Linked DNA regions of Homo sapiens. The protein of the gene in region 3 purifies or fractionates together with the protein of the main gene of each other region. This does not show direct contact. Each region holds a gene or a part of one and is shown on either strand. Other genes may lie near its edges.

Evidence for each region. The genes of interacting proteins can lie anywhere in the genome.
Region 1: the proteins of HIPK4 (region 3) and AKAP8 purify together in Homo sapiens (affinity purification with mass spectrometry; one large-scale study listed by BioGRID and IntAct). This does not show direct contact.
Region 2: the proteins of HIPK4 (region 3) and ATP1A1 purify together in Homo sapiens (affinity purification with mass spectrometry; one large-scale study listed by BioGRID and IntAct). This does not show direct contact.
Region 4: the proteins of HIPK4 (region 3) and ZNF146 purify together in Homo sapiens (affinity purification with mass spectrometry, with the first as the bait; one large-scale study listed by BioGRID). This does not show direct contact.

What each region holds. Positions count from the first base shown.
Region 1 is NC_000019.10:15,369,788-15,373,287, forward strand, and holds part of AKAP8 (A-kinase anchor protein 8), read right to left. Parts: coding exon 3,064-3,500; intron 2,561-3,063; coding exon 2,431-2,560; intron 2,212-2,430; coding exon 2,165-2,211; intron 393-2,164; coding exon 359-392; intron 1-358. UniProt on the Homo sapiens protein: Anchoring protein that mediates the subcellular compartmentation of cAMP-dependent protein kinase (PKA type II).
Region 2 is NC_000001.11:116,393,744-116,397,243, forward strand, and holds part of ATP1A1 (sodium/potassium-transporting ATPase subunit alpha-1), read left to right. Parts: intron 1-1,366; coding exon 1,367-1,542; intron 1,543-2,854; coding exon 2,855-2,991; intron 2,992-3,500. UniProt on the Homo sapiens protein: This is the catalytic component of the active enzyme, which catalyzes the hydrolysis of ATP coupled with the exchange of sodium and potassium ions across the plasma membrane.
Region 3 is NC_000019.10:40,387,382-40,391,328, forward strand, and holds the start of HIPK4 (homeodomain-interacting protein kinase 4), read right to left. Parts: upstream 2,801-3,947; 5' UTR 2,522-2,800; coding exon 2,057-2,521; intron 1-2,056. UniProt on the Homo sapiens protein: Protein kinase that phosphorylates human TP53 at Ser-9, and thus induces TP53 repression of BIRC5 promoter. May act as a corepressor of transcription factors.
Region 4 is NC_000019.10:36,221,606-36,225,105, reverse strand, and holds part of ZNF146 (zinc finger protein OZF), read right to left. Parts: intron 1-3,500.

The sequences.
Region 1 (3,500 bases), about 25 Mb from region 3:
TCAGGGAAATGCACTGGCCGAGGAGGGCACAGAAGATGGGCTGGGGGCCTCTTCTCTCATGTTTCTCCTTCCCTACAAACTTCGACTGTGGTGGACACCCAAGGCTGCCCCCCATCCCCACTGCAGCCCACATCGGGTCAGGCAGACAGACCCGTTTCCAGTAAATGCTGCCCCAGACACTTTGAAGCAAAGTGTTGGCTGATCGCCACGGTCAAGGCCCATCTGGTGGCTGCAGCCCCTCTTCCCCCACAGCCACGGGCCCCTCCATCCAGGCCCCTGGCTTGCTCAGAAGCTGGGCAGTAAGTGCGGGGCAGCTGGGAAGACACAGGAAAGCTGCAAGGGACACGGTGATGCCTACCTCTTTGCCTCCCAGAGTCGCAGAGTTCATCCTCCTGGAAAAGAGTATACACAAAGTCCGGCAGTGAGCTGGTGTGTCCAGACTCTCCACAACCAGCCCAGTCCCTGGCCACTGCCTGGTGGGCAGTCTCACCCAAGACCTAGGTTGCTATGCCACCAAGAATGAGCCACAGTGTGTTAGGACCAGCCTCCGGGGCTCAGGACAGGGCCTGTGTGTCCTGTTATTACTCCTAGTTGCCTTCAGAGATTCTGTGACAATCACCTTGCTAAAAAGCCATTCACCCACCCTCTCTCGGTTCCTCCTAAGCTGCAGAACTGCCTGCCCCATGACAAAGACCCACCCGTACAATTCTATGAATGGAGCCTGTTCACCAACCGTAGGGAGATAGAGTCTCACTTGGGGGATGCCAGTTCTGGCATTCTTCATAGAAAATGGGTTCCACCACGTTTCCCGAGCTTTTGTTTATATTTACCCAATGTCTTTTTTTTTTTTTTTTTTTTTTTTGAGACGGAGTCTCGCCCTGTCTCCCAGGCTGGAGTGCAATGATGCAATCTCAGCTCACTGCAACCTCTGCTTCCTGGGTTGAAGCAAATCCTCTGCCTCAGCCTCCCGAGTAGCTGGGACTATAGGCGCATGCCGCCACATCCAGCTAATTTTTGTATTTTCAGTAGAGACGGGGTTTCACCATATTGGCCAGGATGGTCTCAATCTTGTGACCTCGTGATCCACCCGCCTTGGCCTCCCAAAGTGCTGGGATTACAGGTGTGAGCCACCGCGCCAGGCCTATATTTACCCGATGTCTTAATAACAATCACGTATAGATAAAAACGATTCAACTGAGAATCTGAACAGAGCTGACTCCTTAGGCAGTGAACATACGGCTAAATTAACAATCAGCAGGTTTACAGAGATTCCTAATCTCAAGACCAGCAAAATAGGGATCAAGTGAGACTCTGAAAACCTGAAAAGCCACCATCTCCTGCCTGTTCCCTGCCTGTGTGACTCTAAGGACTTGGGGAAGGCCCTCCTTCCCACTCTGGACCTCCAGGCCCTACACCTCCAACTTGGATCAGAATCTACACTGGGGTGGCTGAGGCACCTCCCCAAGAGCTTGGGGTGGTCCCGGCTATGAACTGGCCCCACGTGCTGCCTGCCTGTGCCTTGTTGTGAGGATGGAAGGATGAGGACACCAGTCAGCGGCACCCGGCACGGAGCTGGCGGCAAATGAGCCTCCAGCCTGTGCTTGGAGGCTTCAGCCCACAGTCCCTGCACTTACTGGCCTAGAGACCAGGGAGAGGAACTGGGAGCTTTTTTCAGAAAAGGAATGTTTGTTGTAAGTTGAAAACTTTTTTTTTTTTTTTGAGACGGAGTCTCCCTCTGTCGCCCAGGCTGGGGTGCAGTGATGCAACGTCAGCTCACTGCAACCTCCACCTCCCAGGTTCAAGTGATCCTCCTCCCTCAGCCTCCCAAGTAGCTGCTACTACAGGCAAGTGCCACCACTCCTGGCTAATTTTTGTATTTTTAATCGAGACGGGGTTTCACCATGTTGGCCAGGCTGGTCTCCAACTCTCGACCTCAAGTGATCCACCCACCTGAGCCTCCCTAAGTGCTAGGATTACAGGTGTGAGCCACCGTGCCGGCTAAGGTGGAAAACTTTTAGAAATCTAGCTAAAAGTCAGGGTCCTGAATCCACTCAGAGGTAGTCAAATCTACCATGGCAGCTGCTCCTGCCCCTTTGTGAGGAAGGGTGATTAAAGAAAGAAGAAATCCCACACTAGAGGCAAAAGGGCTGCCTGGTGGACTTACACCCTTGAATTCTTCATCTCCTGAGCGGAAGTCACCAGCTGCGTCATCTGCCAGACACAAAGAAAGGAAAAGTCAGTCCCCGGAGAACGGTCCCATCCGGTTTCCGCCCTCCCAAGCTCGCCATCCAGGGTGAGTCTGCCCTGACCACAGTGGGGTTGAAACATGCCACCTGCGAGTGTCCACGACACAGATGGGGCAAGCAGAGCCCCCAGCAGGCAGCCGACCCATCCTACATCTGTCTGGCCCACCTGGCCCCCAGGACATACCATTTTCGGAGAAATCTCCTTCACTGTCAACCCGGGCCAGTTTGGTGTCTGGCTCCTCGTAAAGTTGGAACTGCTTCCGTTTCCTGCCCGTGCCATCTGGTCCGAAGCGGTCAAACCCTCTCCTCTTGGGCTACAGACAACAAGCACACCCCATGAGCTACTTACGAGGGCCATGAAGATGCCCCACAGAAAAGAACAAGGAGGTTGTAGGATCAGACAACACAGGCACAAAAGGTCTTTTCAAAAAGCAAAGAGACAACATAATTTGAAACTAAAAAGAAAATCATGCTGAGTGAAAAGAAGCCAGGAACAAAAGGCCACACGTTTCGCGACTCCATTTGTGCAAAATGTCTAGAACACACAAATCCAGAGACCAGTGGTGGTTGTCGGGGGCTGGTGGGGGCGGGGAAGAGACAGGGGTGACTAATGAGAAGAAGTTTCTCTTCTGGTTGACATAAATGCTAAGATTAGACTGTGATGGTGGGGATGGTTGCACAATCCTGTAAATTAACTAAAAGTCGAACTGCGCACTTAAAAACATTTAAGTGAATGTTGAGATGGGGAAATTTTACCTCAATAAAGCTGCTAAAAAGAGAAGCGAAGGCGGCCGGAAGGAACCTTGCGAGGGCTTACCCGATCCCGATCCCGCATCCGAGGCTGCGAGCGGCCACATCCGTAGGGCATGGTGCTGTCATAGCCGCCCGCCCCCTGCATGCCCATCACGCCGTAGTCGGGAGCCATGGACTGGGAGAAGAGGGACGGAGGTGGCCGGCTGGGGGAGGGCCCTCCCAGGCCCCGTCCACCCACGTAGTTCAGCTCGTTCCAGGGCGTGGACAGGGGCTCAGAGGACGCAGCGGGGGGCACGAAGGGGTCGCTGCGCATGAAGGTGCCAGGGTTGCTCCGGTCCTGGAAGCGGCCCTGGCCCCGGCCCCGCATGAAGCCATCAAGGGAGCCCCGCTCCCGGGCTGGGTCTCGGCATTCACTGTACTGCCCCCCAAAGCTGCCATTGCGGTCGGACCCCAGGTCGAACTCATAGTCGTAGCTGTAGCTGGGGCGGTAGGGGTTGTGCT
Region 2 (3,500 bases), on a different chromosome or scaffold from region 3:
CAGAGTGCCTGGGCACGTTTTTATCCAGTAACCTAGTCTGGTAGACAGTTAACAAGTGATCCTATGAACCTCTATGTCTTGTTGACCTTCCTCTACATCTTTTAGGGGCAATCCTCCTATTTGTTTATTTGCCCCCTATTATTTTGAAAACAATAAGTGCTGAAGAAATGTTCAGCGTATTGGGCTGTGAGAAACAACGTCCTGATGGTTTGCTTCTGACTTGTACTTAGACCTTTGGTCTCATGCTAGTCAGTTCTGTTTGTTTAAAAAAAAAAATGGTGGAAGAATATCTTTCTTATCTAACCTTTGTTGCTGTGGACATGACTTATAAGCCTAATTAAAGTTAATTAATTCTTAGTGTGTCTAAGTTAGACATACTATTTCCTGACTGCCTTGGAATGGGTGTGAATTTACATGAGCACTTATGTGCTCAGCTTAGAAACTAGACTAACGGTAAACTTTTAGTCTAAGATGCTACCTATTTTTTTCTACCCTGACAGCTACTGAGGCTGAGAAGTTCACTTTACCCATTGTCTAATGTATTTGGGAAAGTGGCATTTATAATACTTTGTAGGTTGACAGATACTACATTCATTATTTATATAATGCTTCCTATTCTTCTTAACTTGGGTAAATCTAACTCATGGTATCTTTCGTATGTGTCTATCCAACCGAAGGATTGCTATCTTCTCTTTAAGTGTTTTTCACTTCCCTACTTCCACCACCCCAAAGTGGAAGCAGTCTCTCTTCTTTTGAGTCCACATGGCACGTTAAAGATCATTGTAACGTCATACAACATTGAAAAGAATGTCTTACATTATCTTGATTCTTGTATTTACTATACTAGATGATAAACCCCCTGGGCAGAATGCATCTGATCTGTACTTATCCTCAAAAGTAGCTAGCATGATGTCCCACATTGGTGCTCAGTAATATGTTTCAGTTAAATGAACAAGAGAGCAGAGGTATGGCCTTGATGTTTCCAGAGAAGGCAGCTGAGGCAGATAATTCCATGATTTGCCAAATCCAAATAACTTAATGTCATCATCAGTGGGCAAGTCTAGAACCCTAATATCCTGGTGCTCAAAATTAGTGTTATCAATTCAGTCTTCTCCACATTAAACAATTTCCAATTCCTTTGAGGCCTGGTGTGATGGATTCTGTCTTTCAAATGCTTTTTTTCTTTCAGTGACTCTATCGTTCATAAATGTTAAATAAAACCCTCACTCTGTTATAAAAATATAGACTTTAAAAATTTTCCAAAGTAAACACTCCAGAGAAAGGTAGGCGGGCTGAATAGGCTGCTGTTGTCCTTCTTACTGCCCAGCGTCACTGAAATTTTCAAAGGCTCCTGTCCTCCTCGCAGGTTTCTGCCACCTCTTTCTGCCAGATGAACAGTTTCCTGAAGGGTTCCAGTTTGACACTGACGATGTGAATTTCCCTATCGATAATCTGTGCTTTGTTGGGCTCATCTCCATGATTGACCCTCCACGGGCGGCCGTTCCTGATGCCGTGGGCAAATGTCGAAGTGCTGGAATTAAGGTAGTGCCCAGGCGCCTCCTTGGCTTCATCTCTTAGTGCCTTGGGACACCCTACTCAGTGAATGTTGCCTTTTGAGGTCCAGATGGCCAGCTGTTCTATCTCACCTGGAGTATTAATTTCTCATCTCCAAAGCTTTACTTCCACCCAGAAAAGACCAGATAGTATTAAAATATGATGGTGTAAACACACGAGGAATTAAAAATTTTTTGGAAAGCAATTGTGTAAAAAAGAAATGTAAGCAAAGTAAAAACAGCAAAAGACTTGAAGTTTTAAAATACTTGCATTATTCTAAGTTAATGTACCTTATGCAATGAATGGCATATCTTCTGTGTTTTCAGTTAACTGTTTGTTAATGAGTGTTTGGTGTCCTCTGTGTATCTGTCTTTTTTTAAGTAGCTGAATATTACTCAAGTGCACTAATATCCTGTTGCTGGGTATTTGGTTTCTGTTTTTTACTCTCAGGATTTTATTTTATTTATTTTTTGAGACAGAGTCTTGCTCTATTGCCCAGGCTGGAATGTCATAGCACGATCTCGGCTCACTGCAACCTCCGCCTCCCAGGTTCAAGCAATTCTCCTGCCCCAGCCTCCCAAGTAGCTGGAATTACAGGCACCCGCTACCACGCCCAGCTAATTTTTGTATTTTTAAGTAAAGATAGGGTTTCGCCACGTTGGCCAGGCTGGTCTCAAACTCCTGACCTCAGGTGATCTGCCCACCTCAGCCTCCCAAAGTGCTGGGGTTACAAGCGTGAGCCACCACACCCGGCCTACTCTCAGGATTAATACTGCCCTGAAAAGCTTTGTAGAAGTTATTTCCTCACCATTCCGACTGCTTCTTTTTAAAGTATATTCTAAGTATAATCACTGCATCAAAAAATAACAATTTTGAATTCTTGTCACATGTTGCTTTTCCTCCAAGTTGTGCCAATTTGAGAATGCTAGCCAGTAGCATGTGGTGTCTTCACAGTCCCACCAGCATCAGATTTTTATCCTTTTTTTTTTTTTTTTTTTTTGCTGGTTTTAGTAATTTTCAAGTATTTTTATGTAACTCTGTAGAAGGAAAAATAGACATTGTGTATGCTAGTGATTGTATACCAAGATAAAACCTGAGTATTGCCTTTGTGTTTCCTTTCTGTGGATATATATGTTTATATTTTTGGCTAATCGATGTTTATTAGTTTTATATTTGCATTCCTTTCCTTTTGATAGTCTAAGCCGAATCATCCTTAGTATTTACTCTTGCCTACTGGATATAAGACTTTAAGGTCATTTACTTGGCAGTTGCATTCAACACATTGTCTTGTTTATTACAGGTCATCATGGTCACAGGAGACCATCCAATCACAGCTAAAGCTATTGCCAAAGGTGTGGGCATCATCTCAGAAGGCAATGAGACCGTGGAAGACATTGCTGCCCGCCTCAACATCCCAGTCAGCCAGGTGAACCCCAGGTAAGGCAGGAAGCTCAAATCACAGTCTGCTGTGAACAAGCAAATAGTGATGGTTTAAAATCTTCAGCGTGGTTCTATAATGGTTTGCATCTAGGCTTGCTCTGAGTAGGAAATGTACCTGCACTGCCAGAAAGCAACCTTGTCATTCCTAAGAAGGGTTTTAAGTAAGAGCAAGTCATAATAATTAGCACTTAGATGGTATTTACTGTTCTAAGAGCTTGATATGGTGACCTATTATTTGCAGAGCAGGGAAGGTAAGGATTCAAGAGGCTTTTGAAGTACCTCAGAACTGGTGAAATCATGCAGTAAATTCAGCAGTCTAGCTTCTGATTTCATGCTGTTAACCACTGAGCTCTACTGCCTAGCACCTAGCATCTTGACACTTTCCAGGTCCACACTAACAAAATAAAATAAGGAAGGGACAATTACTTAGGCCATTCAGGCAAACACAGGAGACATTTGGCAATGAAGTAAAACAGATAATAGCAAATTGGTTTTGTTTTAAGGTT
Region 3 (3,947 bases):
TGCGAATGGCCGAAAGCCTTTGTCTCTCCCCATGCCTCTGGTGGAGCTGTCTGCCATTTTCACCCTGAATCTCCGTGACTCTCTCTTGGCCTGTTTCTTTTTCTTTTTCTTTTTCAGGTGGCTTCACTCTTTTGTCCAAGCTGGAGTGCAGCGGCATGATCTCGGCTCACTGCAACCTCCGCCCCCATATGGGTTCAAGCGATTCTCCTGCATCAGCCTCCCAAGTAGCTGGGATTACAGGTGCACCCCACCACATCTGGCTAAGTTTTGTATTTTTAATAGAGACAGGATTTCACCATGTTGGCCAGGCTGGTCTTGAGCTTCTGACCTCAGGTGATCCACCTGCCTCAGCCTCCCAAAGTGCTGGGATTACAGGCTTGGGCCACCACACCTGGCCAGCCTGTTTCCTTCTCTGAGTTTTTCTGCTTTTCATTCAGCCATTTCTCAGTTTTTTGTTTTTGTTTTGTGTTGAGACAGAGTCGAGCTCTGTCGCCCAGGCTGGAGTGCAGTGGCGTGATCTCAGCTCACTGCAAAACCTCTGCCTCCCAAGTTCAAGTGAGTCTCCTGCCTCTGCCCCCCAACTAACTGGGATTCCAGGTATGTGCCACCACGCCTAGCTAATTTTAGTTTAGTTTTTTTTTTTTTTTTTCTGAGACAGAGGGACTTCCTCTGTCGCCCAGGCTGGAGTGCAGTGGCGTAATCTCAGCTCACTGCAACCTCTGCCTCCCGGGTTCTAAGCGATTTATCTGCTTCAGCCTCTGGAGTAGCTAGGATTACAGGTGCCCGCCACCACACCCGGCTAATTTTTATACTTTTAGCAGAGACGAGGTTTCACCATATTGGTCAGGCTGGTCTTGAACTCCTGACCTCAGGTGATCCACCCGCCTCGGCCTCCCAAAGTGCTGGGATTACAGGCGTGAGCCACCGCACCTGGCCATCCCTCACCTTTCACTTGCAGAAAGCAGTATCATGAAATGGTTATTAATTGCTATTCTGATCCCAGAGTGCCAGGGCTTCAGTACCCAAGAGGCTGAGTGACCCTGGGCACTTAGTCTATGTTTGTGGAATGAATTCATTCCTTCCACAGAGACAGTGGGGGTGATAATGCCGGCCAGGTGCTGTGGATCCGTCCTGTCTGTCCCCTGCTGTGTTTGTGGAAGTCCCTGCTTCCCTGGGTCTCTGTCCTTCCACCTCTTGGGGCAGAATAATCCACCTTTTTCTGTCTCTGTGTCTCTGGCAAGCATTCATTTAGCACTGGCTCCATGACTGCAGTGCTGGGAGATGTCAGGGACACAGCGATGATTAAGTCAGCCCCAGCCTTGCCCTCAGGGTGCCCCTGGTTCAGAAGCATCCAGACAGTATCAAACTCAAAAGCAGACAGAGGACTGGGCATGGTGGCTCACACTTGTAATTCCAGCACTTTGTTGAGGCCAAGGTGGGCAGATTGCTTGAACTCAGGACTTTGAGACCAGCCTGGGCAACATGATGAAATCCTGTTTCTACCAAAAAACACAAAAATTGGCTGGGCGTGGTGGCTCACGCCTGTAATCCCAGCACTTTGGGAGGCTGAGGCAGGTGGATCACAAGGTCAGGAGTTTGAGACCAGCCTGGCCAACATGGCGAAACTCCATCTCTACTAAAAATACAAAAATTAGCCGGGCATGGGTGGCGGGCACCTGTATTCCCAGCTACTCAGGAGGCTGAGGCAGGAGAATCGCTTGAACCCGGGAGGCGGAGGCAGTGAACCAAGATCATGCCATCATCACCCCGTCTCTGATAAGTACAAAAAAAAAATTAGCTGGGCGTGGTGGCGCATCCCTGTAATCCCAGCAACTCGGGAGGCTGAGGCAGGATAATCACTTGAACCCAGGAGGCGGAGTTGCAGTGAGCTGAGATTGTGCCACTGCACTCAAGCCTGGGTAACAGAATGAAACTCCGTCTCAAAAATAATAATAATAATAATTTTAAAAAATTAAAAAAAAAATCTAGGGCTGGAAGAAGCTGGGAAAAAGACAAGGAACTAGGGACGCAGCCACCCTAGACGACCCCTACTCACCTTGACCCTGAAGGGGCAGCGGGTCTGGTCCACCAGCATGATGTTCTCAGGCTTGAGATCAGCGTGGATGATAGCCAGCTCCTTGAGCCGGGCCAGGGCTGTGAGCACCTGCAGGGTGACTGTACGGATGTGGCGGGCGGGGAGGGGCGCGAAGTTGTTCTCCTTCTGGAACTCGAAAAGGTTTTGCTCCAGCAGCTCAAAGACCAGGTAGAACTTGAGGGCGTCATGGAAGAACTCAAGGAAGCGGATGACGTGGGCCTCTTCAGGGTCTAGGCCTCGCATGCAGTGCAGCAGCTTCAGCTCGTTCTTGATGATGCGGTTGCGGTAGGCGTCATTCTTGAGGATCTTGATGGCCACCATCTCGCCCGTGCTCCGCCGCCAGCCCTTGGCTACCTCCCCGAAGGTCCCCTTGCCCAAGACCTCGATGATGTCGTAGCAGTCAGTCTCCGACTGGATGGTGGACATGGTGCCGCTGCTGCCAGACACCGCCCTGCCCAGGCCCCTGTACCACTGGCTCTGCCGCCCAGGCCTCCCGCCTGGCTGCTGACACAGCAGGCCCCCCAGTGGGGGAAAGAGAACCGCACTCGTGTCTCCTCCTATGAGGTTGGCCCCTGCTTCCCTGGCACCCCCAAACCCCCAGGCCACACTGTCAGTCTGCCAGGGGCTGCACCCCTCCCCAGAAACCCTCCTGGCTTGGGATGAGGGGCCCCAGGCCCCACCGAATGGGTTCCAGCGCTGTTGAGTGGCTCTGGTTCTGTTGTTGGAGACCTGAGCCCTGGCTGGAGTGGGGGTGGGGTACCAGGCTGGGCCCCCTCCCCCGCCCAGTGGCGGAATCTTGCAAAGACCAAACAGGTGAAGTGTTGACAGAGGGGGGTCTAATCGTGGGCCTTGGGCATACAGGAATGGGGATAAGGCAGGAGTGAGGAAAGGTGGGCTTCTTGAGCTTGGGAGATGTGATGTGTGTGTGTCTGTGTTCAGAAAACTCCTGTCCCAGTCTGTGGCTACTGTGGGGTGAGGTTGTAAAAGGCCCTGAATGCCAGGCTAAGGAGTTTGGATTCTGTTCTGAGGGCACTGGGGAGCCACAGAAGGGCTTTGAGCAGGGGAGGGCAGGGTCAGATATGAGTGTCAGAAAGTTACTGTATGAAAAGGGATAGGTTGGAGCGGGTAAGAGTGGAAGCCCCAAGCCAGGGAAAGAGTCCAGGACAGGGCACAGATGGGAGAGGTTGGGGAGGAGAGGGCGAGGCCAATGGATGAGACACTCAAAAGGCCAGGAGAAGCAGCCGTGAGACCGACGGTTTGAGGGAAAGGCGGGAGCTGTCTAAGAACGGGCCTAGGGCTCTGGGATGAAGGGGCAGTCCCCGAGAAATGGACATGGATAAGAAGCAGCTTGGGGGAGATGTTGAGGCCAAATTAGAAAATGTATTTATTTTTGGCTGGGTGCGGTGGGTCACGCCTGTAATCCCAGCACTTTGGGAGGCCAAGGAAGGCAGATCATAAGGTCAGGAGATCGAGACCATCCTGGCTAACACGGTGAAACTCTGTCTCTACTAAAAATACTAAAAATTAGCCAGGCATAGTGGAGGGCGCCTGTAGTCCCAGCTACTCGGGAGGCTAAGGCAGAAGAATAGCTTGAACCCGGGAGGTGGAGGTTGCAGTGAGCCGAGATTGCACCACTGCACTCCAGCCTGGGTGACAGAGCGAGACTCCATCTCAAAAAAAAAAAAAAAGTGTTCATTTTTATTTATCTTTTTAATTTTTTGTAGAAATGGGGTCTCACTATGTTGTCCAGGCTGGTCTCAAGTGATCCTCCTGGCCTCAAGTGATCCTCCTGCCTCAACCTTCCAAAGTGCTGGGATTGTAGACATGAGCCACCACTCCAGCCAGATTAGAA
Region 4 (3,500 bases), 4.2 Mb from region 3:
GTAAAAACACTGAAAAGCAAATCATGATAATAAAAGTAATAGAAAAACACTGAAGGCATTTCTATTAGATTCTAAACAGACAAGGATGCCTACTGCCTCAATTATATAATCTAATTACAAATAACTAAGGAAAGCAGGGAATAATATTAGTATGTAGAAATCAACAGCTTCATATATGCCAACAATGACTCCATTCATAGCAACATAAAACAAAACATCCAGAAATAAACTTAGTAAGAAGTGTCCAAACCTGTATGAAAAAAATTTTAAAACACCCTAGAGGACCCAAAAAGAAACGAGAATACGTATCACGTACATAAAGAGGAATATTTAATGTCATAAAAATGTCCCTATTCCCAAGTTATTTTATAAATTTAATGCAATCCCAATAAAAGTAACAAACTAGTTCTACCTTTTCCCCCTCTGGAACGAGACAAGCTAATCCTAAAATTTACAAAGAAAAATAAACAGGCAAGAATAGCCAGGAAACACTGAAAAGGACGAGCAATTAAGAGACTAGCTATACCACAAAGTAAAACACAATGATAAAGCCTCAATAGTAAAAAGATAAATATTTTCCCTGGTTGTTACACCTGGGCTATAGCAGTGTCCTCAGTCTTTCTGCTCACACCCAGAAACAGACCAAATAAATGTGAGAATTTAGTATATAATCAAAGTGGCATCCTAAAAATAGTAAACATAAGACCTTTTTTTAATGTGTGTGAGATGGAGTTTGGCTCTTGTTGCCCAGGCTGCAGTGCAGTGGCACAATCTCAGCTCACTGCAACCTCCGCCCTCCTATGTTCAAGCGATTCTCCTGTCTCAGCCTCCGAATAGCTGGGATTCAGGCATGTGCCACCACACCCAGCTAATGTTTTGTATTTTTAGTAGAGACAGGGTTTCTCCATATTGGCCAGGCTGGTCTCGAACTCCTGACCTCAAGTGATCCACCCACCTTGGCCTTGCAAAGTGCTGGGATTGCAGGCGTGAGCCACCGTGCCCAGCCAGGTAAGACCTTTTAATAAATGATGTCAAAGAACGTGGTAGCCAATTGGAAAAAGGTAAAGCTGGATGCATATCTGATAGCATACACCAGGATAAAATCTAAATGGATTATAAATTAAAATAAAAACAAAATCTTAAAAAAACTATTGCTCTGACTTGGGAAGCCAAGGTAGCAGGATCACTTGGGCCCAGGAGTTTGAGACCAGCCTGGGCAACACAGGGAGATCTTATCTCTACAATTTTTTTTTTTTTAAATTAGCGAGGATATGAAGGCTGCAGTCAGCTGTGATCACGCCACTGCACCCCAGCCTGGGTGACAGATCAAGATCCAACTCTAAAACAATCAAACAACAAAAAACTGTAACTTTATAAGAATTTGAAAATATCGGTGAAACTTAAGAGTGGAAAAGTCTGATAACCATAAAAGACTGATGAATCAGCCACGCGCGGTGGCTCACGCCTGTAATCCCAGCACTTTGGAGGGCCGAGGCGGGCGGATCACGAGGTCAGGAGATCGAGACCATCCTGGCTAACATGGTGAAACCCCGTCTCTACTAAAAATACGAAAAAATTAACCAGGCGTGGTGGCATGCGCCTGTAGTCCCAGCTACTTGGGAGGCTGAGGCAGGAGAATGGCGTGAACCCGGGAGGCGGAGCTTGCAGTGAGCCGAAATCGCACCACTGCATTCCAGCCTGGGGGACGGAGAGATACTCCATCTCAAAAAGAAAAAAATGTAACTAGATTTTTTTTTTTTTTTGAGACGGAGTCTCACTCTGTTGCCCAGGCTAAAGTGCAGTGGTGTGATCTCGTGCACCACAATGACTGGCTAAATTTTTTGTATTTTTAGTAGAGACGGGGTTTCACCATGTTGACCGGGCTAGTCTCAAACTCCTGACCTCAAGTGATCTACCCGCCTCAGCCTCCCAAAGTGCTGGGATTACAGGCGTGAGCCATCGCGCCCAGCCAAAAGTTTTGAAAATAAAAAGAAAACCATAGCAGCATGGTGGTGCACTGCCTGTAGTCCCCGCTACTTGGGAGTCTGAGACTTGCTTGGGCCCAGGGGTTCAAGGCCAGCCTGTGCAACACAGTGAGACTGTGCCTCTAAAAAATACATGAATAAAAAGGTCTTTGGTGTGGTGCGGGGATGTCTCTGTGCTCACCAACCACAGGGGGCTCATTCTAAGCACGGCTATGTAAAAAAAGAAACTATTATTACTAAATTAAAACAAAACCTCTTATTTCTGCAAGATTAAAAAAAAAAGAAACCACTGTGAACAATGTCCAAATGCAAATGAAAACTTCAAAAAAAAAAAAAAAAAAAGCCACCACTCATTTCATACAGGGCTAACCTTTCTAATTTATAAACAGCTCCTCTAAGGAGAAGACACCCCATAGAAAAATGGTGAAAAGGATATGAATAGACAGTTCCTAGATTAATACATACAGGCCTTTAAACATATAAAAAAAAATTCTCATTCATAAGAAGGGATGTAAATGAAACCTACACTGAAGTTCAGATTGTCTCTTATGTCCCTAGCGAAATACCAAATATTCGACACTACACTCATGGTGAGTTTAAGGGGAAGACGCTCTCGCACATGGCTTGTGGGAGTGTAAGTACTTACCCACTGGGCAGCGCCATTTGTATTAATAGCAGTCTAGTTTAGAGCTACTCCTGTGTCAGTATAAAATGGCGCACATAAAAAAATTATTCATTACTGCATTGTTAGCAACAGCAGAAGACTGGAAACAATCCAAATGCTCAACAACGGGATTAACTGAATCAACCATGGTGCATCCAAATAATGACATCTTATTTATACAGCAGCTGAAAAAAAAATTTCTTTTAAAGATTATGATTAAGAAGGAACACCTTGGCTGGGTGCAGTGGCTCACACTTGTAATCCCAACACTTTGGGAAGCCAAGAGAGGAGGACTGCTTGAGCTCAGGAGTTCGAGACCAATCTGGGAAACAGTGAGACCTCATCTCTACAAAAAGTAAAAAAGCCAGGTGTGGTGGAGTGTGCCTGTGGTCCCAGCTACACAGGCGGCTGAGGCAGGAAGATCACTTCAGCCCAGCAGTTGGAGGCTGCAGTATGCCATGTTAACACCATTGCACACCAGCTTGGGTGACAGAGCGAGACTATTTCAAAAAAAAAAAAAAAAAAAAAAGAAAGAAAAAAGGAAGGGCTATCTCTAGGACATACTGTTATTAAAGAAAGTGAGATATAGGGAGGTGCATGTGGTATGCTATCTTTTATGTAAGGTGGAGGGAAACAGGAGTGAAGAGAAATATATAATAGTGACAGAACAAAAAACAAAAAACCCACTTGAAGGATAAACAAGAAGCAAACAAAAAAAAACAAGACATGTTTACATAAGACAAAGAAGAATGTGACTGGGGGAAGGGAGCAGAATGAGATATCTCTGTGAGATAGATCTTTGTTGAATCACAGAAATGCATTACTTACTTCAATAGTAATCAAATTCATTT